Linked DNA regions of Homo sapiens. The protein of the gene in region 1 purifies or fractionates together with the protein of each later gene. This does not show direct contact. Each region holds a gene or a part of one and is shown on either strand. Other genes may lie near its edges.

Region 1 (7,314 bases):
AGCTTGCTCGGGCAAAGGCAGTGGCCAGTAAAGAAATAGGAAAACGTAAACTGGAACAAGATCGCTTTGGGGTGAGGGTTTTATAGAAATATTTTACTTTTGGAAAGCAGAAAGTTTTTATGATAGTTTTAAGGGTAAGATGTATATATAAAGTAACTCTTTGCTGTAAATTCCAAGAGATTAAGATTAAAGCTTTGTTTTTAAATGACATCCACATTTTTGGATGTCTACTTTATTATTTTGTCTTGACTTTGTTTTTGTCATAAGTCATAGATTAACTAGCAAAACTTTTGGCTACTTATGTTAAACTCTGTTTTATTCTCCATATTGATTTAGTTTTATAATGTTGGCATTGTATGGTGGGGATAGCACAATTATCTTACCAAAAATTGTTTATAAAATCACAGTGATGTAAAATACGTGTATCATTTTTCTCCCTTAGCCAAACAAAATGATGAGACTGGACAGTTCTCCAGTATCAAGTCCAAGAAAGCATTCAGCAGAACTAATTGCTATGGAGAAAAGACGGTTACAAAAGCTAGAATATGAATATGCCCTGAAAATTCAAAAATTAAAAGAAGCCCGTGCCCTTAAAGCAAAGGAACAACAAAATATCTCTCCAGTTGTGGAAGAGGAACCCGAATTTTCTTTACCTCAACCCTCACTTCATGATCTGACACAAGATAAATTAACCCTGGACACTGAAGAAAATGATGTTGATGATGAAATTTTGTCTGGTTCAAGCAGAGAGCGAAGAAGATCTTTTTTAGAATCCAATTATTTTACTAAACCTAACCTTAAGCACACTGATACTGCTAACAAAGAATGCATAAACAAACTTAATAAAAATACTGTAGAAAAACCAGAACTTTTTCTAGGGTTAAAAATTGGTGAATTGCAAAAATTGTATTCAAAAGCTGACAGCCTAAAACAGCTGATTTTAAAAACCACCACAGGCATTACAGAGAAGGTTTTGCATGGTCAGGTAACTGAACATTTCATATTTTCTTTAAAATCTGGAATTCACCCAGCCTTATTTGCCTTACAGAATTATTATTTTCTTTTGCAGGAGATTTCTGTAGATGTGGATTTTGTCACAGCACAAAGTAAAACAATGGAAGTGAAGCCATGTCCTTTTAGACCCTACCATAGTCCTCTTCTAGTTTTTAAGTCCTACAGGTATAAAAGAAAGATTCAATAAGCTTGAATTTCAGGATTTCTGTTTGGTTTTTAATATTTTATCTTGAATATTTGATGATAATGAAAAAGCAATTGAATCATTGCTATTGATAACCAGACTTACCCTTTTAAGGAACATAAAAATTAAGTGTCCTGCCGTTGGGCTCAAACCACACTCTTGGATTTATCAGTTCGTATCAAATTCCAGTTTCTGGCTATTGGTAGAAGTGTGGAGAATTTTGGATTTCTGTTTGTTAGGAATTTTAGGAAAAATAATTGGAATCTTAGAGGTTTTTTTTAATTTTTGATTTTTAATTTTACTGTTATTCAGTCTAAGAAGTGCATTGGCCAGCCTTCATAAAATTTATTTAGACATTTTCATATGATTAACTTTGTGGGTCCCCCATTTAGACTTTTAAAAGTTGTGAGAATGTTAAAGGGTTGCATGTTTTTATCTTAAAATTGTAAAGCACCTTCCAGGTAATATAGACTTTTTCCAGATTTTCTTGTCTTGGCTGGTAATGTGTGTAAGAAATACCGGTATTATATAGTATTTTATTATGTGGTGAGAAACTACTTTTAGAATACAAGGTTTTTTTTCTGTTTAAACTATTTTATGTTCTTGGTATAAAAGCAACTTGTTTCTATCCCTTGATATTCTAGGTCTTTTCTCGAATTAATTTTGGCATTAATTTAATTAGATAAATAGCTCATAAATAGTAAGCATGGAAATTTTAACTTGAGAAAGAAAAACTAAAGTTTTCTTAGTTTTCTGAGGAATGTTTGTTGGGCATAATATACCTGTTCACTCTCTTCACCTTAGATTTAGTCCATATTATCGAACCAAGGAAAAACTTCCCCTGAGCTCAGTATCATACAGTAATATGATTGAACCGGATCAGTGTTTCTGCCGTTTTGATTTAACAGGAACATGTAATGATGATGATTGTCAATGGTGAGTAGTTTTTGTGAACATTTTGTAATTTGAAAAATGGTCTTGTTTGCTTAACTTTGATATGTACATGATTATCTTTTCTGTGTTTTTTTTTATCTTAGGCAGCATATACAAGACTATACACTTAGCCGAAAACAGTTATTCCAGGACATTCTGTCATATAATCTGTCTTTGATTGGTTGTGCAGAGACAAGTACTAATGAAGAAATTACTGCTTCAGCAGGTTTTTAAAGACTTCCTATTCTCTCCCAAATGAAAATTGAATTTAGGCAACTTAAAAATTCTATATTAGTTGTTGACATTGTAAAATACTTACTATAATTCAGTGTATTTACCCATAATACTTTATCTAGATTTGCTGTATCCAGTATAATTACGGTAAAAATTTACTTCCTCTGTTACACTAGCCACATTTCAAGTACCCAATGGCCACATGTGGCAAGTGCATGCCAGTAGGACAGCACAGATTTAAGACATTTCCAACATTTCAGAAAGTTCTTTGGACAGAGCTCATTTAAATATTTAGTTCCATTTATTTAAAAGAAAATATTAAGCTATTTGTATAGAAACTTTACTATTGATTTTAACATAGGAGCCTATTTTTACTTATTGTTTTCAAAAAATAGAGGAAGGCTGGAAATTACGATGGCTGTTGTTTCCAATTCTATAATGAAATAAGACTTGATACACTTGTGAGCAAATATTATTAAGCTTTTTCTCAGATTTGGTGCCAAGTAATAAACCTCAAGCTACAAATCTTTTGGAAGTAAAGAAAATAATAATTACTAAATTTGGTGTTATCACAGCCCAGAGTGATTGTAATGTCACTGAATCTATTTTATCGCTCCCAATTTGGGACTTTAACTTAATTACTTAGTTCATTTTAGGAACTACTTTTTTTTTTTTTTAATCCCAAATGGGGTATATGATGTGGTAGGATTTGCCATAGTAGTTAAGATAATACAGGCTTTGCCCTTTCAAATGCCATAGGTGTTATTGACTAGTACCATATAATCGCCTTTAATTCTTAAACTAGTTCACGTCATACATTTTAATTATCCTAGTCTCTGTAATTGATATTTATCATGAAGATTGCATTGCTCTTATTTCAGAAAAATATGTTGAGAAACTTTTTGGAGTAAACAAAGATCGAATGTCAATGGACCAGATGGCTGTTCTCCTTGTTAGCAATATCAATGAAAGTAAAGGTCATAGTAAGTACATATATAAGTGTGTGTGTGTGTGTGTGTGTGTGTGTGTGTGTGTACTGTATCTCTTTCTGAAAAGGACTTTTTAGTTTCTGTATGACAGAAATTTTGTTGGTATTATGTTCTTAATGTAATACATATCATTCCAGGCTGGGTGCGCTGGCTCACGCCTGTAATCCCAGCACTTTGGGAGGCTGAGGTGGGCTGATCACTTGAGGTTAGGAGTTCGAGACCAGCCTGGCCAACATGGTGAAACCCCGTCTCTACTAAAAATAGAAAAATTAGCCGGGTGGTGGTGGCGTGTGCCTGCAGCCTCAGCTACTTGGGAGGCTGAGGCAGGAAAATCACTTGAACCCGAGAGGCGGAGGTTGCAGTGAGCTGAGATCGCGCCACTGCACTCACTGCACTCCAGCCTGGGTGACAGAGTGAGACTTCCATCTCAAAAAAAAAAAAAAAATACGTATCATTTCTAAGATGGAGTGAATGTAGTTCTTCTCAAATATTATTTGAGTATCCTTCAAAATGTTAAAAAAAAAACTAGTTATATCAATTAACAATCTTCTCCTATCTACTTTAGCTCCTCCATTTACAACCTACAAAGATAAAAGAAAGTGGAAGCCAAAGTTTTGGAGAAAACCTATTTCAGATAATAGCTTCAGTAGTGATGAGGAACAGTCTACAGGACCAATTAAGTATGGTAAGAAGTTATGTAATTTAAGATCCAGAATTATTAAATTGTGGTGTTCCATCTTTATTTAACACTTTGCTAATCCTTTGGTGTATCAGCCTGCCTGGTTAAAAAAAAATTTTTTTTAAAAACGATGCCATTGGGTTTTTAGACAATACAGTTAATTCACTGTGCAGGATTGCCTCTGAAATTGCGGGATATTTGTGTTCATGGCTCCTCTCCAGTAAATGCAAGGAGCACTGCTTAGTTAATAATTATGACTGCTTCAGATATTTCCAAACATACATTAGTTGGTGGGGAAGGTAGCTCCCGTTTGAGAACCACTGCCTAGCCTGTGTCCTCCTTAAGGGCAGGTGTTCTATTTTACTTCATCTTTGAATATGTTTTCTGACATGCAGAAGGCTCAAAAGATGAGAATGAACAAATGATGAATGAACTAATGAACAAAATAATGTATGAATGAGTGCCTGTATGTTAGGCACATTTTACTTTCTAATTTCAAGTTTGCATTATTTGTGAATTAGCAAGTATCCAAGAGATGTATGCTATTATGTACTTATTTACACTAACGTAACACTGTTTTTCTAGTTTAGATATAGTAGAATAATCTTTATAAATTATGACTTTTAATTTCTTAATTATAATTTGCAGTTTAACAAATGTGAATTCATTTGATAATAATGAAAAAGCAGTTGAATCATAGTTACTGTTAAGTGGACTGAAAAGGTAATGTCACTTAGCCTTAAAATAGCAGAGTTCTAATTACTCCTTTTGTTCTGGTGTAATTTTTAGTAGCACCTCTTTCCACTCAGAAGGGTCCTGGTTTGGGTGATAAATTATGTCATAGCTCTACCTTAAAGCTGTGAGCTAGTACATGTCATTAGAATCTTTAGGTTTTTAAGTTACTTTAAAGATGAGACCAATTGTTTTCTTTTTCTTGCATCTGTGGACTAAAGAAAATGTGAAGCTAATAATACTTTTTTTTTAAATAGCTTTCCAGCCAGAGAACCAAATAAATGTTCCAGCTCTGGATACAGTTGTCACTCCAGATGATGTCAGATACTTTACAAATGAGACTGATGACATCGCTAATTTAGAAGCAAGTGTGCTTGAAAATCCTTCTCATGTACAACTTTGGCTCAAGCTTGCGTACAAGTACTTGAATCAAAATGAGGGGTAGGTCAACTTCAAATCTTTGTGTAAACAGTTGCACATTTATATTTTTATGTTTGAGGTTTTTTTACCTATGGTAATCAGTCAGGTTTCTTTCCTAGTATCAATGGAGTCTTTGTTTTTTGACAAAGCCAAAAGCATTTTATTGTTTAAAAGCTATTAGACAAGTTTAAGATTAGATCTTGAGTTTGTGTGCATGGCTCAGTGTATGGGTAATAAATTATACTAAAGTTTTTTACTCCAGTAGGCTCTTATTTCAAAGTAGGATTAGTTAAAACAGTAAATTCTGACTAGTGGAATGGTTGATTGTTTTTTAAAAAAATCATAGTAGTCATAGTTTGTTAATAAAATTATGATAAAATAATGGTGGAACAGGTTAAATTTTGTTAATTTGTAATGGATATTTAAAGCTTATCTGAGAACTTCCAAATTATGGTGAATTTTCTTTCTGTCTCTGTCATATTAAATTATATGTATTTAAATAAGGTAAATGGTAATAACTTATACAACCAATAGTTTGTATTGCAAATGGCATCTTCTAACTTCTTGGTAGTAGAAATAAGCCAAGAATAATCTTTTCATAATTATAACTTTATAGTTACAATAATTCAAGGGTTTTTTTTTTTTACACGTTTCTTTGAAATATTTGACTATCTTAAAGCTTTTAAATAAGGCAGTGCTGCAGAGTGCTAATAAACCCACACATGCCTGGATGTGTTGCTTATTTAACTTTCCTGTGTGTCATTTCCATGTTAATGGGATAAGTTACAGTGTTTTCTTTTCTGACTCATTTACTGAGTGAAGGCCAAAAGAACCATACATTATTTTATGAATAGGATCATGAGAAAGAATTATCTTCTCCAAGAGATAGCAAGCCCTTGACCGTTGAAAAGAACTATTATACTGAAAGCTTTGATATTTTGTACTTGCAGTAGCTGGCCTTGAGAGAGAGTTGTTTAACTTTTCGCATTCCCAAATGGTGTAAATCATAAAAGGTATTGCTGAATATGGACATAAAGCACATTTGAAGTTGATAATCTTAGTGGTTTTATAACACTGTACTTTTATCTGTGGTAAATGCTTACTGAACATTCACTTAAAAAAATTGTTGGGTCTGTGGAAAATCAGAAACTTTTAGGCATGTGATTTAAAATCTGAAATCTAGTACCCCTTTTCATAAGTGATCCTGACTTCTTGGTAAATTCTAGTAGAAAATGGAATTTTAAAATTGACTCATTGGATTAGCCCTATTTAAATTTTCAAGCAGGTTCTAAAAAGCACTTCCACCTTTTCTTTTATATATACAGGGAGTGCTCAGAATCCTTGGATTCTGCTTTAAATGTTCTGGCGCGAGCATTGGAAAATAACAAAGACAATCCAGAAATTTGGTGCCATTACCTCAGATTGTTCTCAAAAAGAGGAACCAAGGACGAGGTGCAGGAAATGTGTGAAACAGCTGTTGAATATGCTCCAGATTATCAAAGCTTTTGGACTGTGAGTAGAAAAGATAACGTACGTGTGTGTGTGTGTGTGTGTGTGTGTGTATAATTATTTGGATCATCTTAAAAATTGATAAGTAGCTTAATAGAGCATATGCTTTATCTGAATATAGACATAATAACCTTACTTTCAGTTTCTAGTAACCACAAAGCCACTTCTGGATCAGAATTTAGACTAAGCAAGAAGAAAATATTTAGTGAAGAGGTGATTTTTTTGTTGTTGTTAACTTTATTGGTAAAGAAAAAATGTAAAATTGTTAAAAATTTCACACTTACCTATTTTTACACAGTTTTAGTTTGGGCAAAGTTAAGTGTAGCTTTTGCAAAACACCTGAAAAAATTGTTTCTTTTAAATTTATCTTAAATTGCCTCTATAAAATTATAATGACTGCCAGGAAACATTTTTGTCTTTTTATTATTTGTTTCCATTGCTTATAGAAATAATCCCAATCTGTAATTCACACTAATATCTAAAATTGCCAAGCTAAAAACATTTGATTGAGAAAAAATGGCCTCTTCCTCTTTCTCCAAGAGAATGAGATGGTTTTTTTGGCTGTCAGTTTTTGAGGCAGGGTCTCTCTATGTCACCCAGGCTGGAGTGCAGTAGTGCAG
Region 2 (7,314 bases), on another chromosome or scaffold:
TACAGCATCTGCTGAAGCCTTACAAAGTTCAAGGAACTGGAGGTAAAATAAAGATGAATAAAAGCTGGAAAATAAGCTCCGTGGTGGTAGGGATTTTTGTTCCTTTTCTTTGGAGTTGTTTTCCAGAACTATAGAACCCACTAAGTGTCCACAAATACAAATGTTTTTGATTGAGTTAAAAAGTAGAATTCCTACCCTTAGGGAGTATACTATTGGCTCATAATTAAATGTGTCTTATTGGTGAGGTTTTAAGAGCATATGAGGCTATCACTGTGAACAGCAACTGTCACTGTACCATGGATTCACGGAATTGACAGAGAAGAGATTTTTCAGGTGGCAAATGAGCAAATGTTTCCTATCCAAACATCACCAGAGTAAGAAAAATCCCCATCTCATCAAAAATATGAGCCAGTACCTACATCCCTGAAGAGTCTTTCTTGGTACTCAGATTAAACAGAACACAGATTTCAACATAACTCCTTCCAAGTGCCAAGACATAAAATCCTTGAGCTTTTTATTTGGCTCTAATAAAAACCTGTATCTTTTTGGACAGCCAGATTATCTTACCACGTCCCTCCCCCAAGATACATTCAGGTCTTCAAGCCCTGTGTGAATTTCACTTCTCTAGGGAGTTGTCCTTGTTTCTCCTCTCCTCCATGGTGACTCCGCGTCCCCTGGGCACCAACACACCCTGAGCATCACAGTGCACTCACTAAGACACAACAGTGTCTTTGTTATTATAGCACGCATTCATTTTTATCTCTAGGGACTATAAACTTGCCAAAGATAAGCACTTATGAATTCTCAGATCCACTTTTTCTATAAAAGCTAACCCAATCCATTTTAATAACATACATACAATATTTCCACTTAGTCATCCGAAACCTTCCACTTCATGTACAAGAGTCGCTAGATTTTATGTTAATAAATTAACACAAGGAGTTCCACGCTATTTTTAAATTTTTGATTGAAAAAGAATCTGAGAGACACAGCTGGATTCTCAGCGAATGTACGGACTAGAAAGATAAGTTGTTTCCTGAACCTTCAAGACTTTTTTGTATTATTTTCCTGCTAAATTGCATATTTCTGTCCTTCAGAGAAGTCTTGAAGAGATCTGATTTCCTTCTGTTCTATTGTGTTGGTGTGAACGCCTTTGCAATTGAATAGGAAGCCGCGGAGGGTGGCAGGAACAAGTCAGCAGAAGTTACACAAAGTGAGGTGTGTGCTTTGTGACTGGTTAGAGCTCTAATGAGGCCAAGGTCATGGGTTCAACCCCTGAAAAGGCAGGTACTTCAGTTAATTCCCTGCCAAAGGACTGCACCCCTAAACTACTGCAGATTTCCTAGAAATCCAAAGAAGTGAAGGTTGGGGATGTGGGTGGGCTAACAATGCAAGTTCCTGAGAGGCAAAGGAGACCTCAAAATGCCCTGCCTCCCTCAAGTGTCAGAACAGGCCACTCATCAGGAGGAAGGGGCCAGTGCAGGGGCCCCTGCCCTGACACAGCCACAGAAAAACGCTGAGTGAGCAGGAGGATCAGAAGAGAGCTCAAGGTCTGAATCTGCCAAGTAAAATCAGGGTGCCTTGTTCTAGGTGTGTCTAGTTCCCTAGTGATCATCAGGACACACATACACATGTATTCAAAGATACGTAACCAAACCCATAGAGGAGCTGTCTGTGAGAAGAGCAGGAAATGAGAGGGAACATTCTGAAAAATCAAATTTGCCTTGCATATACCAGATAAAAGCATGCCTTGAACTCAGAAGTATGATTACCTCAACTACATCTGAGGTCCAAAAAAAGATGTGTGTGGATGGGGGGAGTCAATTTAATTATTCATGACTCCAGGAAGACAAAGCATGCTTTTAATTATTGATTGCTTCCTTCGAGGACAGAAATAAAGTGGCATAAAACAGTAATTATTTCATATTTTTATACTGACAGGGAAAAGAGGAGGGAATATTAACCTAAGTTCAAAGCAGTAAGCCTAAAACACCCAAATACAGTAGAAACTTCCTTTGCAATTCTCTCACTATATCAAATCCTAAAAGAGACAATTTTGCTGTCCTGAATTCTCACCAATTCTGAGTTCTCCCAAAGACCAGGTTCCTGCCAAACTATAGCAGTGAGCCCTGGATCTTCTCAAAGAAATTTAACATATTTTTACAAGAACCTTCTCACAGGTGGTGTGCAACTTGCCTGTTCTACAGGAATACCAACCAGGGGCTGCCTCCTATAGCTGCACCATAAATTCCATTTCCACAACTCAAGAGATTTAACTTCTGCAGAGAGAGATCCTGAAGAATGGATTTGCTTAAGGAAAAAAAAAAAAAAAAGACTATGGGCTGATGCTGCCCTATCACACGGCACAGAAACAAACTCTTTATATGTAGGTATAAAGGCTGAGATGACTAACTCTGGTTTAGTCCTAGCGTAATATTAAAAATATTCCAAGCCTACAAAAGGACCAAAGCCTCATGTTCTTTTTATGTTTTATTACATAATAATTCATACATATAAAAGAATATGTGTAGCTCTTATGCAAATTTCAAAGCATTATAATAAAAACAACATGTTTAAGTCCATATCAGCATAAAATATAGATCTAAGATGGCTGAATCAAACATTTTTTAAAACTTTAAATAATTCTTTAAACAATGCATTCGTTTGTTAAATTGTTGGCCAATTATAAATTCTATTCAATCAAGGAGATATCAGAGACGGATTAAGCCCCCAGTCTCCAGGGAACCACACAGTAGTAATGTAGGGTGAAGTCCCTGGGTGAACCACACAGTAGGTTCAGGCCAAAGGGGGGCACAGGAAGATCACACGAGGAACAGGGAGATTTGGCTCCATCCTTGAAGGTCATGGAGTCCGGCCTTTAAGAGGCACTCAATAAATATTTGACAAAAAAGGTGTGAAATTCAGAGAAACCACTTAACTTCTCTAACACTCAGTTTCTTTCTATGTAAAATGGAATAAGGCCCTGTGTATACCAGCCATCCTTGGAAGGATCAAAATAAGAATGTATCTGGAAATGCTTTATGGGCTGCAAAGAGCAATATGATTTAAAGAAATGCCATTTTATACAGGTTCTTCGAATTTTTTTTGATTGAGAGGATTCTGTGCAATTGCTTCGGGAGGGAAAGGTGTTAGATGGTGGTTTTAACTCACCAGGGTTTGAATTTCACTTCAGGATATCCTGCTGTTATTCTGTCTCTTTCATCTGAAATCGGTTCCAAACGTGCAGCTTGGTCACTGAGCCCCTATAAGCTATAACAGAAATTATGTTCCCCGCATATGAAAAATAACGTGAGTTACTGGCACATTTGAAGTCTTAAAGGATGGCTCCTTGCTGCTGTTGAAACAATTGTGCTGAAAGTAAAAGGCAGAAGGAACCCTGATATCCTTGCAATGTGGAAAATTCTGTTTTCTTCCATTTCTCTCTATAAATATTTGTTTTTTCTTATTAAAAGAATATTAAAGTGCCTAAGACTTTGGAGTGAGAAAAGGCTCTTTTTTGAAGAAGGTTTACCTGTGTAGGTATATTATATTATTTCCATTAGGTTTTGAAAAATACTGAAAACTAATCCCAGACCCCATCATTAATTCTGGGGAACCCAAGGTTGAGAACTGCTGGTTGTGGCTATGGGTCAACAGGCCATCTTTTTTTTTTTTTTTTTTTTTTGAGACATAGTCTAACTCTGTCTCCCAGGCTGGAGTACAGTGGCGCACTCTCAACTCGCCACAACCTCCACCTCCCGGGTTCAAGCGATTCTCCTGCCTCAGCCTCCCAAGTAGCTGGGATTACAGGCGCCCGCCACTATGCCCAGCTAATTTTTGAATTTTTAGTAGAGATGAGGTTTCACCATGTTGGTCAGGCTGGTCTCAAACTCCTGACCTCAGGTAATCCGCCCGCCTCGGCTTCCCAAACTGCTGGGATTACAGGCATGAGCCACCGCGCCCAGCCAATAGGCCAGCTTAATGGTGACTCCACTGGTCAACAATTTCCAGTATTTCCTTCCCAGTGTTCACCCCTCCCCACAACTCCATAAAAACGCCCCTAAAATTATAATATTTTATCACACAATTTAATTAAGTTAGAAACATTTAGCCAGCAGAGTTCATCAAACAAGTATGAGATCAGGCCAGGCGTGGTGGCTCATACCTGTAATCCCAGCACTTTGGGAGGCCAAGGCAGGTGGATCACCTGAGGTCAGGAGTTCAAGACCAGCCTGGCCAACATGGTGAAACACTGTTTCTACTAAAAATACAAAAATTAGCCAGGCATGGTGGTGCATGCCTGTAATCCCAGCTACTCACCAGGCTGAGGCAGGAGAATCACTTGAACAGCGGAGATTGTGCCATTGCACTCTAGCCTGGGTGACAGAGTGAGACTCCATCTCAAAAAAAAAAAAGAAGAGAGATCAGAGTGATTTTGATGGCTCACTATGTGCTAGGGTTGTACTGACTTAGCTTGGTTGGTAGGGTGGGTATTCATACGCTTTTTTTTTTTTTTTTTTTTGAGATGGAGGCTAGAGTGCAGTGGCGTGATCTCAGCTCACTGCAACCTCTGCCTCCTGGGTTCCTAGGTTCAAGCCATTCTCCTGCCTCAGCCTCCCAAGTAGTTGGGACTATACTACACCTGGCTAATTTTTGTATCTTCAGAGGAGACAGGGTTTCACTGTGTTGGCCAGGCTGGTCTCAAACTCCTGACCTCGAGTGATCCATCTGCCTCAGCCTCCCAGAGTGTTGGGATTACAGGTGTGAGCCACCATGCCCAGTCCACACTTTTTTATTTTTTTTAAGAGACAGGGTCTCACTTTGTCTTCCAGGCTGGAGTAAGTGATATGGCTTCCTGCAGCATCAACCTCCTGACTCAAGGGATCTTCCCACCTCAGCCTACCCAAGTGTAGCTAGGACTACAGGCCCAGGCTACCACAGCTGGCTAAACTAAATAAAATTTTTTTTGTAGCGAATGGGGTCTTGCTATGTTGCCCAGGCAGGTCTCAAAATCTTGGCTTCAAGCGATCCTCCCACCTCAGCCTACCAAGTCCTGGGATTAACGGCACTGGCATTAGTACGCACATTTTACAGATAAGGGAACCTGGGAGTTCAGAGAGGTTAAGTGATAACTGGCCTAAAGACAAACCATCAGGAAAGAATGAAACCAGAATTCAAACCCAGTCCACCTGCCACAAAGTCCCTGCTTTGCGGTTTCTACTGAAATAAGGTCATGCACTAACAACATTTTAGTCAATGACAGACCACGTGAACAAAGGTGGTCATAAGACTGTGATACCATATTCTCACTGTGCCTTTTCTATGTTTAGATATGTTTGGATACACAAATACTTACCATTGTGTTACAACTGCCTACAGTATTCAGTACAGTAACATGCTGTACAGGTTTGTAACCTAAGAGCAACAGGCTATACCATACAGCCTAGGTGAGTAGTAGACTCTCTCACGTAGCTTTGTGTAAGTACACTCTAGCATGCTGGCACAAGGACCAAACTGCTTTACTAAGGCAGTTCTTGGAACATATCCCTGTCATTAAGTTATGCATTAATGTACATGGAAACCTTGAAATACTGAAAGGTGGAAAGTGAAAACAGCCATTTCCTTACCTAACATACAGATAGCTGAATTTTGCATTCTTTAATGGCACTTTTTACAGGAAATCTGTTGTATGTATGTTTTAGTCTTACCACCTATTTTATAAAAATACATCTAAAAAAGAAGGGGAACCCCTTTATTAGAGCATGTATTCAATTTTTTTATTCAGAAAACATGATGATTTAAATACATCTGAAGCCATTTCTCCCCCAAAACAACTCTCAAAGCATTCTCAGGAGAGCCAGAGTCATAGCAGTCCTGGGCACAAGGTCCCCTTCTCATGCACAGCTTCAGGCAGCCAGAACCAGGGCTAGTTCAGAGAACTTCAGGAAAACAGCATCAGGATTTCATGGCCCTTAATACTGATTAAGATCAACTAAAAATTATTCTGCCGGTTTGATAAAACAAGAGGAAAGCTAAGATGAATACGCTAGAGAATAAATCTGGGGGACATGAGGAAAAAAAGCCTTTATAACTGCTGAAATAGGACACCTTAATCACAGGGTTTGGCTCAGGCAAACAATTTAATTTTTAAAACAACTAATCTAAGCCAGACATGACCGAAATTCACTGAAACTGGGTTCTAACAGCTCTATTCCAAGGAGGCTAAATGGGCTTTCCTGGTTCCCCCTACACTCAGAACAAACAAAGAAATGTCAATAATCTCATCCTTAAATAACCCATGAGCCAAGAGAACTAAAGATCAAAAGGGAGACTAAAGATCAAAAGATCTGCCTACCTGAAGAATGGCACATAGAATGAATATTTAGATGGAACACTGGGTTAAAGCAGATTTCTCTCCTTCTGAGACAAATCACATTGGGGGTTAAAATATGTCTAGGCCAGGCACGGTGGCTCACGCCTGTAATCCTAGCACTTTGAGAGGCTGAGGTGGGTGGATCACTTGAGGTCAGGAGTTCGAGACCAGCCTGGCCAACATGATGAAACCCTGTCTCTACTAAAAATACAAAAATTAGTCGGAAATCACTTGAACCCGGGAGGCGGAGGTTGCAGTGAGCCAAGATCGTGCCACTGCACTCCAGCCTGGGCAACAGAGTGAGACGAGACTGTTTCAAAAAAAAAAAAAAGTCTAAAACTTAGTTTAAAATACAACATACTTGGCCCGGCGCAGTGGCTCATGCCTGTAATCCCAGCACTTTGGGAGGCCGGGAGTTTGAGACCAGCCTGACCAACATGGAGAAACCCTGTCTCTACTAAAAATACAAAATTAGCCAGGTGTGGTGACGCATTCCTGTAATCCCAGCTACTCGGGAGGCTGAGGCAGAGGAATTGCTTGAACCGGGGAGGTGGAGGTTGTGGTGAGCTGAGATCACGCCACTGCACTCCAGCCTGGGCAACAAGAGCGAAACTCTGTCTCAAAAAAAAAAAAAAAAAAAAAAACCACACCAAAAAATGGTGATAAATGGCCAAAATGTGTATGTGTGCATTTATGTGTGTATGTGTGTATAAAGTGTATCTGAGAAGTCTGATAGGGACAGCTTCCAAGTGGAAAAACTTTATATAATATTATTAGGAGCTGCCTTCTAGCAGTTCAGGCAAGATACGCATGTTCTCCAATGGCACCCACCAGACTGAGAAATGTGATACAAATTAAAAATTCCCCAAAGCAAACCTTTGTCTGAATTGCCCTGACCGTAAGAATCCCATTCTGTTGAGACTTAAGACATTTTCCATTAT
Region 3 (7,314 bases), on another chromosome or scaffold:
ACAATCTCGGCTCACTGCAACCTCCGCCTCCCAGGTTCAAGCAATTCTCCTGCCTCGGCCTCCCAAGTAGCTGGGATTACAGGCACCTGCCACCACGCCCAGCTAATTTTTTGTATTTTTAGTAGAGACGGGGTTTCACTATGTTGGCCAGGCTGGTCTCAACCTCCTGACCTCCTGATCTGCCCTCCTTGGCCTCCCAAAGTGCTGGGATTACAGGCATGAGCCACTGCGCCTGGCTGAAATTTTGGCTTTTAAAATCATTTAGGTCTCATCAGGTATCAATTATTTAAAATGTAAAACTTTCCTAAAGATCTTTTGACTCTTTGTGTGATAAAATACCTTGAAAGAATAGTCATAATCTTTATGACAGAGAGATCTTTAAGGTGTATTTGATATGAAGTCACAAAGAGAAAAATCTTTCGAGTCATTGGTTTTGGGAATTATGTCATGAACACTGAATATAAGGATACTTTTAAAATTTAAAACCACCTCCTTTACTGTATGTGTTGATCTTTGACCTGAATTGGAAGGGGGATTTTTAAAATTTCTCTATAATGTTGTTAAAAAGACATAGGGCCTGTGGGTATTGGGCCTTAAATTGAATTTTCCTTATATAGAAAAATGGAAAAAATTGGTTTAGGTGTTAGGTCATAACAAAAAGTAGGCCCTTTTGAAGATTAAATTTATGCCTGCCTTGGCCTTGTTTAAATCCATGCCTGGCCACAAATATTAGTGTTGTGGCTGTCCATCATCTGAGCAATTGCACAGCTGTTTCATTCACTGCCGTGCGGATTCATCTTTATGTCTATGCTGCTTTGAAGAACCTTCTCAGAGGTTAATGATGAGAGGATGTAGCAGTAGGGACAACACCGTGGCAGATGAGGTCTTTTATTACATTCTTTTAATCATGATTTTCAGCATTAGAAACCAAAAGCTTTATAGTCTCCATGTGAAGAATCCCTGGTGAGCCTGTTTGCTGTGATAATATTAGTCATGGGTTACTCAGTCCTTGATTAAAACCTCCTAGCTTTGTTGACTTGCTAGTCACTATTCACCTGCTAGGAAATATAGGACTGAGTTGTCATGGAAGGAAATAATGGTGCTGGGATTTGAATAAATAATTTATGAGATAATTTCAGAGCCTTTGTCTTCTTCATCCCACCATTTATTAAAGAAGACTTTCCAAAGTATACTGCCATGAGATCTAGAATAATTGAGTCATGTTTTGTGAACCACGTTGGAGACAGACTTCTCTGGGAGGCGACAGCTTCTCCAGAGGAGGCCTTTAGCTTTGGAGTGGGACCAGCCTGGGCTTGAATCCAAGGCCTGCTAGGTTGGGCTGTGTGTGTTCCCGGGCTGGTGGTTTAACCTTGCAGGGTGCTGTGGGCATGTAAATCCTCCAGCGCAGCCCTTGGCAGGTAAGAGGTGCTTCATAAGTGTCGTCCCCCTTCTCTTTTCTGTGGAAGCTGTGTGTTCACCTCCCATGGGAAGACATTCCTAGTCCCCTCCCGTGGGCTCCTCCTCCAGTGGGCTCCTCCTCCAGTGCTCCGCAGTGGAGTAGCCAGCGGGGCGTCCCGAAAGAGCATGGTGCATTCATTCCGTGAGTGCCAGCCACACTGCATGTTCCAAATAACACGCCTCTCTCTCTCCTCAGGTGCCTGAGATCATCAGCTCCATCCGTCAGGCGGGGAAGATCGCCCGGCAGGAGGAGCTGCACTGCCCGTCCGAGTTCGACGACACGTTTTCCAAGAAGTTCGAGGTGCTCTTCTGCGGCCGCGTGACGGTGGCGCACAAGAAGGCTCCGCCGGCCCTGATCGACGAGTGCATCGAGAAGTTCAATCACGTCAGCGGCAGCCGGGGGTCCGAGAGCCCCCGCCCCAACCCGCCCCATGCCGCGCCCACAGGGAGCCAGGAGCCTGTGCGCAGGCCCATGCGCAAGTCCTTCTCCCAGCCCGGCCTGCGCTCGCTGGCCTTTAGGAAGGAGCTGCAGGATGGGGGCCTCCGAAGCAGCGGCTTCTTCAGCTCCTTCGAGGAGAGCGACATTGAGAACCACCTCATTAGCGGACACAATATTGTGCAGCCCACAGATATCGAGGAAAATCGAACTATGCTCTTCACGGTAAAATATCACCCAGCTCGTGCACAGCCCCAGTCTGCCATACGCTTTCAAGAGAAAATCTGCTTTATGGAGCGAAGATTCTTAGTCAATTGCTTTTGATTTATGTGTGAATCCATATATTTTCATGCTGAACAATTCTATTCTTAGGATAAGCTCCTTCCTTTAGCCATAAGCCTTTACAGTCATCAGGGAGAAACATGCCCATGTGTAATTTTTATCTCACCCGGTAATTATAAAGACACCTTTTCAGTGTGGAAAGAACAGTGAAAACGTGTAAATGAGACCAGCAGAGAGATTTAAAAAATATATATGAATTTCAGATGATATATTTCAACAGAATCTTTTAGTTGGAAAACACCCTCTCTACTATTAATATTTTTATTTATGAAACATTTACCCTTTGCTAATCAGGAAGAGTGGCTTTGTGAGTGACATTATATTTGAAATTTATACCCAAACTGAAATATTAATTTAGCCAATGGCTTGCTTGCTTTTTTTTTTTTTAGAAAAAAAGTGTTAAATTGACAGCCAAATGCTAGAAAAGGACTGAACATGGGGGGCTGTCCCAGGTGGGTGGGGTTCCTGGTTCCATGCTGATCTGGGCTCTTCTGAATGGGTGTGCCCTCCCTGGGAGTCCCCTGGGTCTGAACGGATGAGATGTGGAGCTGTCCCGGCAGCGAGCCGGTCTCTGACAATGGAAGAGCTAGTTTCTTCCTTGGCCTTCTCTTTGGCTTAATGCTGACTGACGTTCTGTAGAGAACAAAATTATCTTAAATATAAAGTCTCCTTCTTGTGTCTAATTCAGGGCACAGGTGAGATGGCCAGGGGGTAAAAAACCAGCTACCTAGGTTAGTGCAGTGTGGATGTGTGCAGGTTTAAAACCAAGGGGGTGCACCCAAGGGTAAATAGGGCTGATGTTTTCATCTTTTGACCATTGATCTAGTGTACCGAAAAGAGTAGTCAGATTTGTGCTTTAATTTGTGATCTGCATCTTTTAAAAAAACTTCCTTGGTGACATTGAGAAAGCTGCTCCCTGCATTTATTTATAAGTACTGACTGTTTGACTGCTGTGCTAACGTCCCTTGCCACATGCTGGAAATGCAGCCGTGAACAAGACAAGTATGTTCTCTGCCCACATGGAATTTAGATTCCAGTAAGGGAGACAGGCAACTGAGTGCACAAATAATTATCTAATTATAATTGTGGTAAATGCCGTGGAGGAGAAGTACAGCATGCCTGAGAGCATTTCTCAGGGTAATCAGGAAAGGCTTCTTTGAGAAAGTGATTTTCACCTAACACAAGGTTTCATTGTGGCCACCTGGGAAGGTCTTCTGGGCTCACAGAGCAGCAGATGAGAAGGCCCTAAAGGCAGGGATGGTGCCTGGTGCCTGGAGAATCCCAGAGGCCTGACTGCCTCCTTTGCTCAGCATTCTTCCCTCGAGTTGTCACGGTCTTACCTCCTCTTGCTTCCTTTAGGTCTCTGCTGAAATGTTGACATGGAGGAATAATCGTATCAGTAAGACCAATAGCAGCCTCACTTCCTGCTTTTTTGCTTTATTTTTCTCCATGGCATTTTTACCATTTGACACAATTACAAATAAACAAGTAAAAGATTTTATGTCCCACATGCCCCCAAGAAGATAGGCTTCAAGAGGGCATGGATTTTCATTTCTCTGTTCACTGCTGTCGTTGGTAGTGCCTAGAGCACAGCTGTTGGGTGAGAAATAATTCCAGATGGCCGCACTGAAAACAAGGAAGGATGGTGCGTAGAGATGGGGCTGGGACTGGAGGCAGCCCCATGAAAGTTGTTTTCATCAGGCACAACTTTATGGGTCTTGGTCAGGGTTTTGTTTTTTATCCTGAAAGGAGTGGGCAGTCACTGCATGCTATAAAACACAGTGTGAAATATCTTTGGCTACAGAGCCAGGATACTTGGGGGAGGGCAAGAGTAGGATGGGGAGGGGAGTGAAGCTGTTGTAGTAGTCCAGGTGAGAGATAGTGGGGTTGTGGTAAGTGCAGTGGGAGTGGAAGGGACAGACATGCAGAAAGTCAAATTAATGGGATGTACAATCCTTTGGATGCCATGGGGAAGGAGAGGGATCTCAGGAGCCCCACCCAACTTTGGATTCTGACTTGCTCTTTACAACCCAGCCATAGCTAAGTAATAATGCCTTGGAGCCTCTCACCTTATGAGATTTTCAAAGGTTATTTTTAAAAATAAGTAAGGACTATCTTCATTATGTAGGTAAAGACAGTGACTTCTAAAGAGACTAAACATACTCCAAATAGATACTTATTCGTTGTTTACAAATAAGGAGGATATTGTGTTGGCTCCTACTCTAGAGAGAGACACAGTCTAGTTTAGAAAGATGTTGCATGTTAAAAATGAATTAGTTTTTCATCATCCTTGGTCTCCACAGAAGGACAAGAGTAAAAGGCTACCTGCCACTCTCTGCTGGCTGAAATACAGTTCAGAAACAGTAAGTGTGCAAAAACAATTCAGAATGCAAAGTCCTTGCCCCAAACAGAATGCACGTTTCTTGGGCCCCCTCATTGAGAGTATAATTCCCCTTGACTTACACCCCAGTTTCCAACAAGCTTGTGTATCTGATTTGTATTTTACATCAAAGCGTAAAGAGTTTAGAGGAGGAGATGGGTCTGGGAGTTAAGAATGGCAGCGTCAGGATGTGACCACTGACTTCTTGGTCCTGAGGAGAAACTAAAGCTGTAGAAACCAACACACACTGAAACCCAAGAAGCTTAGCGCTCCAGAGACGAGGAGTCTAAAAGGCAGCCTTTCACAGCCTGCAGGGGCGTGTGCACACAGAGTAGGTTGGGTATTGCAACACAGCAGTCTCCTATAATGCATGTCTATTAGCATGTCCCAAGGCAGTAAGAGGATTGTAATTGATGCTCATACTCTAACTTGAAAAGGTCCGGTCACTAGTGTATGTGAATGCCTCACATGTAATATGTACTAAACAAATGGTAGATTCTTTTAACAATAATTTAAAAAGACTTGTCAGTAAAAATCATTCAAAAGTATCTTGGAAGCTTTGAAAGAGTAGATTCTGTTTTCTGGAAGGTTCACTTATGCGGAGACCTCAGTTTTTAGGGGGATGTGTGGATCTTGAGGCCTATTGCTAACTTTTGGATATCTGGTTCTTTCATCTCAAGGAAGATGGCTGTCTTATCTAGGTGAAGGCACTAATAGATGTGTCTTATGACCTGAAATCCAGAGGATAAGAGGGGACCTTTGAAATGATTTCTACGATGATAGAGTCAGAATTTTATAGGAGCTTGTCCCTTTTATTCTTTATTTTCATAGGTCATGAAATGAGAAAGTTTGAAAAGCTAGATTTTTTTGTTTGTCTTTTAAGATTGGCCAGTCTGAAGTTTACCTCATCAGTCCTGACACCAAAAAAATAGCATTGGAGAAAAATTTTAAGGAGATATCCTTTTGCTCTCAGGTAAATGGAGATGGGTTTTTTTATTCAATTGCAATGGAATTTTTAAATGAATTTCTATAATATCTATCATGTAACAAATGCTAAAGGTTACAAGGTGTATGTTTTCTAAGTACTGTACTTGATTTGTGTTTCGCTTTTCTTCTTTGCTTTGGTATGTTAAGGTAAATTATGAATATAATTTTGAAATTAAGAAATTTGCTCTTAGCAACAGTAATGGACAAAATAGATCTACTTTTAATTTTCTCAGTTATTGGTAGTAATAATCCACAGTCATGACTTCCAGATGCACATGTGTGTGTCTTTGTGCATATTACACATATATATTTACACATTTCACACAAATATATCTTTTTATTAGATATATTTCTACTTTACAAAAATTTGTAACTTTTTTGGGTACCAATTGTCAGTATTCTCCCTTCAAATATAGATAGTGCTTATCTTTGACATATATATTTACACATTTCACACAAATATATCTTTTTATTAGATCTATTTCTACTTTACAAAAATTTATAACTTTTTTAGGTACCAATTGTCAGTATTCTCCCTTCAAATATAGATAGTGCTTATCTCAGAGTACAGTGTCTACTTGAAAACTTTTTTCTTGATAATCTTCCAGGTGTTTCATAGAGGGATTTTGGAAGAATCTATCAATTAAGATTAGCTGTGCCAGTTTTACTCAGGATCTTCCTAACAAATATGAGATCACTTAAGGTTATATTTGCTTTTTTTTTTAAACTCTGGATTTTTCATTTTCATAATTGATAAAATATGAAAATGTCAGTGTTGATTTATAATGTGATCTACTTAAATATTCAAAAGGGACTTTTCTGCAAAATGTGAAAATAAAGAATGTTCTTTACAGATTGAATAGGGAACCATTTACAAAGAAAAAGCTTTGCTAAATCATATTTCCTTAAGTGGTAGCCTTATGCTTAACTTGCTACTGGAGAAGATTAATTGAGATGGCAAAGCATGTTAATGATTGCTCATTTATTGGAAAATATTTGGCCTGAAAGTGAGATTACCCATAGAGTTTTTAATCCTGATTTGCTGCTATTTCTGTTGAAATATGAATGTTAAATGTTTACATTTTTGTGTGATAGCTTTATAATTTCCTAAAGAGTGTAGTTTACAAGTTTATATGATTACCTGAACATTAAGCTATCAGCACTCACATCTCTGCATGATGATGCTTTCAGAATACATTGATGTATTAATATTTATGGCAGACGTTTTATCTGTATTAAGGTGCCTCTGATAGCTGATGATTTTAAAACACATTTACATATTAATATTTATTAAAAATAGCTCTTATGATACCATGGTAGAGCCTTGGCCTAATATGTTTAAAAGCTCCTCTACTCTGTGTGCATGTAATTTTTGACTCTTTCTTTATTCCAGTTCACTTCAGTATTTACCTACTTATTTTAGGAATACAAATATATTTTAAATATTTTTTTAACCTTTGGGTGTGTATGTGCTTAGTTGTGTTTCTTCATGAATCTCTGGTCTGCCTTTGATTTTTTGAGTGGTTTTTATTCTTTAATACCTATGTCTCAAACAAAACAACAAACAAATACTAAAATGAGCACTAAAACTTGAATTTTCAGATCTTATTTTTCTTATTGTTGTGGGAGTAATCAAAGGAACATTCTAGTAAACCAACTTTATTTGAGATGTTTTTAGACTTTTTGAAATTTTAAAATATCAGAGAAAATA
Region 4 (8,222 bases), on another chromosome or scaffold:
TCATTCAAAAAAATAAGGAAACTATATACTGAAGTGGAAAGATTCCCAAGACATTTTTAAGAAAACAGAGTGTACAGTATGCTACCATTTGTGTAAAACAGTAAGAGGAAAGATATGCATTTCCTTGAATGCCCACAAAAAATGTCTACAATGATATACAAAACTAGTATCAGTGGTTATTCCTTTGGAAGACAGGGAAAATGGTAGCTGGGGGAGGGAGCAGAACCCACCAAAAATGCTCTGATTTGCTTGGAGGAGGGCCCAGGCGTCGGTCTTAAGTTCTGGTGGTTCTGATGAGAGTGTTGGACTGAGAACCACTGCTTAGTGGACAGCCTTTGCCTATTTTCCTAGCTTCATTTTGTGTCATCACTCTCCGTGTTCCTGGCTTCTGGGTTCCCAAAAGCGGCCCTGTTCCTTTCTTCCTCAAGGTATTCACATCTGTTCCTTCTGCCCGGAATATTGTTCCCGTGAGCTTCACCTAGTAACTCCTGTTAATCCTTCACCGTCCACCTCAAAGGTCACTTCCCCATGGAAACTTTCCCCAGTTTCCAAACTACATCAGGACATCTGTTTTATGCACTCAGAGCTGCCTGTACTTCTCCCAGAAATTAACACAATCGTAATGAGATAAATGTATATTTATGCATGTATACATCTGTCACCCTCCTTAGACTATAAGGTCCAGGCATGCAAAGTTGTTTTTACTAATCTATTTCCATACCTAATCTAGTGTCCAGTTGGCAAAACAGGCCTTCAGAAATCTGTTAAATAAATAACTGTTCCCGCCCTCAAGCTTAGTATAGTAAACACCTAAGCAAATGAGGACAATGCTGCGTCACTAGTGTTAAGGCAGCAGTCTGCTCACAACAGTGGTTCTTAACTAAGGGTGATTTTGGTCCTCCTGGGGGACATTTGCGATGTCTGTAAGCATTTTTGATGTTCACAACTGTGTGTGTGGAGTGCTACTGGTATCTATTCCTCAGTAAAGGTTAGAAATGCTGCTAAACATCCTACGCTGCACATGATAGCCCTCCACAACTAGAAATTACCTGGCCTAAAATGTCAACAGAACTACAAATGAGAAACTCTGACTCAGAGGACGATAACACTCAAAAGAGCTGTCAATTGCACTTCTGAGGGTGGTGATTTTTAAATATCTGTTTTCTTTTTGGGGGATGGGGGGTGTCAAGCAAAGCTTCAGGGCAGAGGTGAAGCTTCAGCTGTGTGTTTGAAAGGTAACAGGGGCCAGATCAGTGGGGACTATGTTTGTCAGGAGCAAGGAGGAGTCTCTGAAGAGTTTAAAAGCAAAGTTATGATTTGAACAGGTGCCCCCAAGTACCCTATACTCCAAAATTATTCATTTCCTTTTTTCCTTTCTCGCTGAAACAAAACTTCCATTCTCTCAGAGTAGCTGGTTTCAGCTGAACATTAAGGCCAAATTAATTCAGCCCAAGATAAAGTCAGATAGGCCCTTCACTCTCCAGAATGTTAAGCTACATTTTAAAATATGCAAATACTTATGAGTACAAATAAATCTTTAACTGCTCAATGTTCAGGTTGTCAGTGCATAAAGCTATTTTTGAACTCAACAGCCAGATTGGCCCCAGTAACACTTTCCCAAAGCTTTGTTTTTTAAAAACCTTTTTGATCTGTTTCCCCGTTCTCCTAGAAATCTCCTAGATTTCTGAGCTCCTAGATTGTATAAAAGATCTAAGTTTTTTTCCACAAGTATCTCATGCCATTAAGTTCTTCTGCCAGAGGTGATAAAAGGGCCATTTGGATGCAATAAATGTAAATAAATTGTGTGTGTAAATTAGCAGTGGCTTAGAAAATTTTTAAAAGGCTTTCATGGACTACTGAAAGAAACTGAGATAATTTTTAACATACCACCAAGAAAAAAAAACAACAGTTTTACTACAACACAAGCCGGCTGCCTACTGAACTGGACGCCCATGCTCTGACCTAGTATGGCAATTCTTAGGGTCTAGGCGCTGGGTTCTGTTTACAAGAAACTAAGGCCTGAGACTAAGGAAGAACAAAGAAAAATGCCTGGCACCAAAGGTGTGGGGGATGTTTTGTACATAAATGAAGATTTGAGGAGGAATACTTCCTCAGATGTTGGAAGGAATTACTCTTTTTTTGCTTACGTGTTAAGAATTTAATGTTTTCAGGCCATTTCCTAATTAGAAAATACCTTATAATTTACAAACAATAATTTGTCTTCCCCTACATTTGCTGACCACCAAGACTGGATAAAATTTCCTTAAGCTTTACCAGAGTGGGAGGACTGGGAATAACGGGAGCACAACAGAGTTCGGATGCAACATCAACTCCAAGCCCGGCCAGCTGGTTTCCATCGAGAGGTCCCCCAGGAGAACGCCCCTCCGCGGCGGCGGCGGCCAGGTCGGCGCGGGAGAGACCCACCGAGGCGCTCCAGCGCGGCCGCGGTGCAGGACCAGGGGCCGCCCGGCCTCCGTTTACCTTTGTTTCAGGTACCCCGGCTCCTGGCGGGCCGGGAATCCCGTCCGCGGCCCGGAGCTGGTGACACATCCTTCTTTGGCCAAGTCGGGCCGAGGTTGGGCAGGGGGCGGGGAAGGAAAAGAAAGCCTCAGCGCCTAACGACGTGACTCTCAGTTCTTCCAAAACGCTGGCATTTGTTTCTCTGCCAGGCTTTCCTGTTAACAAGTTCCCGAGGGCTGTGCGGGCGAACTGGCCCAGGAGCCCTGAAAAGTGGGAGGGCCCAGGCCGCCCCCGCCTACCCTCCTCCGCGGGCGCCCCTGGGGCAGGCAATTTCCACACCTCCCTGGTGCCGTGTCCCGGGACCGGCCGGCCGCGCCGAGGCAACGCACCGCACCGCACCGCACCGACTGGAATTCCGACTTCCACAGCCCAATCAGCTCCGTGTGGCCCCTCTGGCCAGGCCGGTCCCCGCCCCCAGGTCCCGGCCCCGCCCGCCCCGGCCTCCGCGCGCCGCCCCGAGCCTCGCCACCCCCTCGGGCCGGGACGAGGGAGCTGAAGGCTCCAGGCCGTGCGGCCAGTGTTCCTTTGCCTACCTCGTTGCCCGCGGCTCCTCCTCCGGCGGCTCAGCTCGCGGGCAGCGCTTGCCTCCAAGCCTCCCCGCGGCGCGGACTCTCGGGCTACGAATGCGGCGCGTGAAGAGCGGAGGCCCGAGCGCGCCCCGCCCAGCCACCCGCAGGCCCCTACCTCCTTCTCCTCCTCCTCCTCCTCCTCCTCGGCCCCACCCTCGGCGGCCGGCCCGCCCGGAGCCCCGCCCACGCGCCAGGCCCCGCCCACTCTCCGGCCCCGCCCCCAGCCTACGCCCCGCCCCTCTGGCCAAGGCAGGAAGGGGGCCTCCAGGGGCGCCGCGAGAGCCGCTGTGGCCTCGGCGAGGGCAGTCTCCTGTATGGCGGCGCCGCGGGGATGCGATTCGTGGTGGTCGCTGCTGTTTGACAGATTCGAGTCTCTTGCTCGGATTTATTACTGTTATTGTCATCGTCAATATTGTCATCGTTGTTATTGTTATCGTCATTAGTTGTGTTGCCCTCTTCAAGGGGCCTTCAAGGAGGCCCCTTGAGGGCAGCGCGCTGCTGGCCAGACATTCCCTGGCGCTCCTGTCTTCCCACAGTCCTGCACCTGCGCCACATTTCACTCAGCCCAAGAAGTTGTGTGAATTTTAAAAGAAGTGATACTTATTTTTAACTGTTATTGTTAACTGTTACTGTTAAATAAAACACAAATATAGACAGCCATATAAAACCAATGTACAGCTTAATGGATTATTCCGATACACACACCCTTATAACCACTCGCCAGATTTATTAATAACACCGTGTAATATGGTCTGCTCTGAAACAGAACCTCATTAATAGCTGGAAGGACATAGCCTGGAAGGGCCTCCCAAAATTGCCCTCCTTCTAACTGCCACAGTACTCAAATGTGACAGGTCCATAATCATGCCCTCTCCAAGAATATATTTGTAAAATGGAAATTTCTCCAGAATTAGGAACCTCCAATTGAGTATCTTCGTAAAAATCTTGATAAAATGATAAATCTATAAATATATAAGCATATAAATAACAATAAATAAGTCAATCAGTTGGGTTGAATACCATGAGTAAGGAGCATGGGGGTGGGGGATGGGAGGTATGTAAAGACTTAAAAGGATTAGGTGGGCTGTGAGGACAGGTCCTGGGCACCTGGGTTGTTCTCACTGTCTCCCCAGCACCTAGCATAGCACCAAGCATATACTAGGTGCCATATGTGTGTGTGTATATATGTGCATTGTACATATATGCACATATATGTGTGTGTGTGTGTATAGCACAAGGAAAGAAAAAATTATGTAAGATAACCCCAAACAAGCTTTACATACTGAAATTTCACCCAAGGTCAATCCTCCCAGTAGCTAAAGTGTGCTCTGTGAGATGCCTTGATGCCCTAGAGAGAAAGAGACCATTTTACTTTCAACTTTCTACTGCTTTTCCATTTCAAAAGCCCTTTCACATGCATATGGTATCTTATTTGAGACTGAGAGCAACTCTGTGAAAAATGCAGGGCAGGATAGGACTCTGCAAAGGTCACAGTGCAATGCATATCAGTAAGAAGGAAAAGTACACAATGTACCATAAAACAATGTTAAAACTGCTGACCCTGGCAACCTGGATTCTTGGTTTGTCTCAACAGTTTTATTGCCAATGTTTTTACATTAGGGCTCCTTTGGCCCTTTTGCCATGCATTTATACACATTATAACTTGAATGTATAAAGGACACAATACGTGACTGGAAATTTGATTCAATACAATAGAGTTAGTCTCTCTGTCATGAGGACCATGGTGAATTGGGGCTAGAGAGTTGCCAATTCACCACAATGTATTGAGTACTCAGACTGTACTAGGTGGTAGGAATACAAATGATATAAAATAAAGAAGATACAGGGGCTGGGCGTGGTGGCTCACGCTTGAAATCCCAGCACTTTGGGAGGCCAAGGAGGGTGGATCACCTGAGGCCAGGAGTTTGAGACCAGCCTGGTAAACATGGTGAAAACCCATCTCTACTAAAAATACAAAAATTAGCCAGGCGTGGTGGCACGCGTCTGTAATCCCAGCTACTCAGAAGGCTGAGGCGGGAGAATCACTTGAACCCGGGAGGTGGAGGTTGCAGTGAGCCGAGATCTCTCCATTGCACTCCAGCCTGGGTGATCAGAGTGAAACTCTGTCAATCTTTGTTCTCAAGGAGCTTATGGCCAAGTAAGGGAGAAAGATTTGAAAATAAATGTTTAAATTACATGACGGTAGGGGAGCAGTCATGAGCACAATTAATTCTATGAGGTATAGGAAGAGAGTAGGGCAAGTCTTATTAGACAAGAAAACATCTGAAATTTTTTTTAGTATAAAAATATCAAATATTGAAAACAGAGACAGAATAATATAATTAACTACTATGCACCCATTACTTGGCTTCAACAATTATCCCATGACCAATTTGTTCCATCTGTACCCTCACCTTTTCTTTCCCTCCTTGGATTATTTTAAGGCAAATCACATGGAGCATTATTATTTCATCCATAAATATTTCACTATGCATCTCTAAATGATAAGGTCTATTTTTAAAAACAACCACAAAATCATTAAATTGTCTTTTAAAGTAATAATTTATTAACATCTAGACAGTGTTCAAAATTTCCCAATTTTCTCATAAATGTTTCATGTAGTTTACTTCTTCCAGTCATGATCCAAACAAGTTCCTCACAATGCATTTGGTTAAAATGTCTTACACCTTTTTCTTTCCTTGTACTTTTATATTGAAGAAATAGATTGTTATAAGGAGTTTCCCACATTCTGCATTTTGCTGATTGCTGTGATGTTCTTTAACATGTGCCTCTAACCTTGTATTTCCCATAAAGGATAGTTACTAGAGGCTTGATCAATTTAGAAAAGTATAACCCATAATGAATAGAAAAATCAACAAATCAAAAATAGACCAGAACTATCACAGATGTTAGAATTAGCAGAGAAAGACATTAAAACAATTACTATGGCTGGGCATGGTGGCTCAAACCTGTAATCCCAGCGCTTTGTGGGGCTAATATGGGTGGATTACCCGAGGTCAGGAGTTTGAGACCAGCTTGACCAACATGGTGAAGCCCCGTCTCTACTAAAAAATACAAAAAAATTAGCCGGCCATGGTGGCAGGCGCCTATAATCCCAGCTACTTGGGAGGCTAAGGCAGAAGAATCGCTTGAACCCGGGAGGCAGAGGTTGTGGTGAGCCGAGATCGTGCCACTGCACTCCAGCCTGGGCAACAGAGTGGCTCCATCTCAAACAAAAACAAAAACAAACAAACAAACAAACAAAACCACAATTACTATAACTATATTCCAAATGCCAAAAAAGTTAAGTACATATTAAAAAGGGAAGATGTAAAAAAGACACAAATTGTATTTCTATAGTTGAAGACTATAATGTCTAGAATAAAAATACATTAGATTGGATTAATGGCAAATTAGACATTACCAAAGAAAAGATTAGTCACATCAATAGAAATTATCCAAAATGAAACACACAGAAAGAGAAATGTTAATGAAAAGAGCATCAGTGAGCTAAAGAGCAACTACAAGTGGCCTAATATGTGGAATCTCCAAAGGAGAGGAGTGAAGACAAAAAGTATCTGAAGAAATACTAGCCAAAAGTTTCCAAAATTTATGAAAACTATATACTCACAGATCTAAGAAGTGCAACAGACTTCCAATTTCCAGTACAGCAGACGATAGACTTACATCCAACCATATCAATAGTCATATTAAATGTGAGACTTCTGGTTCCAAAATGGCAGCATAGAAGCAAGCCGGCTCCCCCTTTTCCCCAGAAAAAGAAGACCAAACCCAAATACACAACACCAAGATTACCATCAATAATATCCCAAAACTGAAATATGAGGATGAGACAGTTTGCAGGGTCACAAAGAAGTGAAAAAGCTCCAAGCAGATGGTAAGAGAATGACTTCCATGTTCAGGATGCCCCTCCCCCTATTCTGTCCAGCACCAAGCATTCAAAAAGTTTCCTCCTAAATCAGTTTATACACTGGAAAAAGTGAGATCACGGTGGACAACCAGCTCCCCACCATCTTGGGATCCTTGGCAGGAGACTTGTCCCTGTCTTAGCCCACAGAAACATTGCAAGTCCCTTAAGGGAGAAATATCCCGGAGGATGGGCAAAGGCAAATCGAGAGGCAGAACTACCATCCCCAGAACTGGAAACTGCTCTGTAACTGAGCCAAAGGAGACATTAAATCAGAGTGTCTGTTCAGCAGCAACATGATGTAGGAGGTACATTCTGCAGATACTTTGGGCACAAACCCCTAGCCAGCCTTCCCACATTGCTGGGATATCCCAGGATACCTTCCATTTACTAGAGCTGAGGTGGACCTGGGCTTAAGACACCACCTAGAGCTGAAAAGGAGGCAGAAATGTAGCAGTGAAGAATCTTTAAGCAAATATATTCAATAAAACCCAAAACAAGTCAGACAGAGAAGACTGGAATAAACTACCCTTTAGTGCAAAGACATGGATATACATCACAAGAAACAATAGCAAACAGGGAACCACAAACTCCCCAAATGGGCAAAGCAAGGGACCAGTAACTGACTTTAATGAGATGGCAATATGTGACCTCTATGACCAATAGTTCAAAACAGCAATTTTGGCTGGGCATGGTGGCTCATGCCTATAATCTCAGCACATTGTGAGGCTGAAGCAAGAGGTTCACTTGAGGCCAGGAGTTTGAGACCAGCCTGGGCAACATAGCAAGATTCCATCTCCACAAATAAAAAATTAAAAAACCAATAGCTGGGTATAATGGTGCACATCTCCAGTTCCAGCTACTCAGGAGGCTGGGGTGGGAGGATCACTTGAGTCCAGGAGTTCGAGGCTGCAGTGAACTATGCTGGCACCACTGCACTCCAGCCTGGGTGACAGAGCGAGACCCTGTGTCAAAAATAAAAAAAATATAAAAAAGCAAAAATAGAAAAAAATCCTCCAAAATAGCACTTTTAAGGAAACTCAGTGATCTCCAAGATAACACAGAAAACCATTTCAGAAATTTATCAGAGAAATTTAACAAAAATATTGAAGTAATTAAAACAATCCCATAGATGTTTTGGAAGTGAGAAATACACTTGCTGTACTAAAAATTTCATTAGAGACCCTCAAGAGCAGAACGGATCA

What was found.
Region 2: the proteins of ZFC3H1 (region 1) and SMYD2 purify together in Homo sapiens (affinity purification with mass spectrometry; 2 studies listed by BioGRID and IntAct, with this or other methods). This does not show direct contact.
Region 3: the proteins of ZFC3H1 (region 1) and TBC1D1 purify together in Homo sapiens (affinity purification with mass spectrometry; 2 studies listed by BioGRID and IntAct, with this or other methods). This does not show direct contact.
Region 4: the proteins of ZFC3H1 (region 1) and PPP2R3A purify together in Homo sapiens (affinity purification with mass spectrometry; 2 studies listed by BioGRID and IntAct, with this or other methods). This does not show direct contact.

Annotation. Positions count from the first base shown.
Region 1 is NC_000012.12:71,625,643-71,632,956, reverse strand, and holds part of ZFC3H1 (zinc finger C3H1 domain-containing protein), read left to right. Parts: coding exon 1-71; intron 72-442; coding exon 443-985; intron 986-1,069; coding exon 1,070-1,179; intron 1,180-2,002; coding exon 2,003-2,134; intron 2,135-2,235; coding exon 2,236-2,357; intron 2,358-3,246; coding exon 3,247-3,348; intron 3,349-3,919; coding exon 3,920-4,039; intron 4,040-5,022; coding exon 5,023-5,206; intron 5,207-6,510; coding exon 6,511-6,697; intron 6,698-7,314. UniProt on the Homo sapiens protein: Subunit of the trimeric poly(A) tail exosome targeting (PAXT) complex, a complex that directs a subset of long and polyadenylated poly(A) RNAs for exosomal degradation. The RNA exosome is fundamental for the degradation of RNA in eukaryotic nuclei.
Region 2 is NC_000001.11:214,283,958-214,291,271, reverse strand, and holds part of SMYD2 (N-lysine methyltransferase SMYD2), read right to left. Parts: intron 1-7,314. UniProt on the Homo sapiens protein: Protein-lysine N-methyltransferase that methylates both histones and non-histone proteins, including p53/TP53 and RB1. Specifically trimethylates histone H3 'Lys-4' (H3K4me3) in vivo. The activity requires interaction with HSP90alpha.
Region 3 is NC_000004.12:38,012,855-38,020,168, forward strand, and holds part of TBC1D1 (TBC1 domain family member 1), read left to right. Parts: intron 1-1,654; coding exon 1,655-2,119; intron 2,120-4,539; coding exon of another isoform or gene 4,540-4,599; intron 4,600-5,499; coding exon 5,500-5,589; intron 5,590-7,314. UniProt on the Homo sapiens protein: May act as a GTPase-activating protein for Rab family protein(s). May play a role in the cell cycle and differentiation of various tissues.
Region 4 is NC_000003.12:135,960,681-135,968,902, reverse strand, and holds the start of PPP2R3A (serine/threonine-protein phosphatase 2A regulatory subunit B'' subunit alpha), read right to left. Parts: upstream 3,176-8,222; 5' UTR 3,054-3,175; intron 2,906-3,053; exon of another isoform or gene 2,275-2,905; intron 1-2,274. UniProt on the Homo sapiens protein: The B regulatory subunit might modulate substrate selectivity and catalytic activity, and might also direct the localization of the catalytic enzyme to a particular subcellular compartment.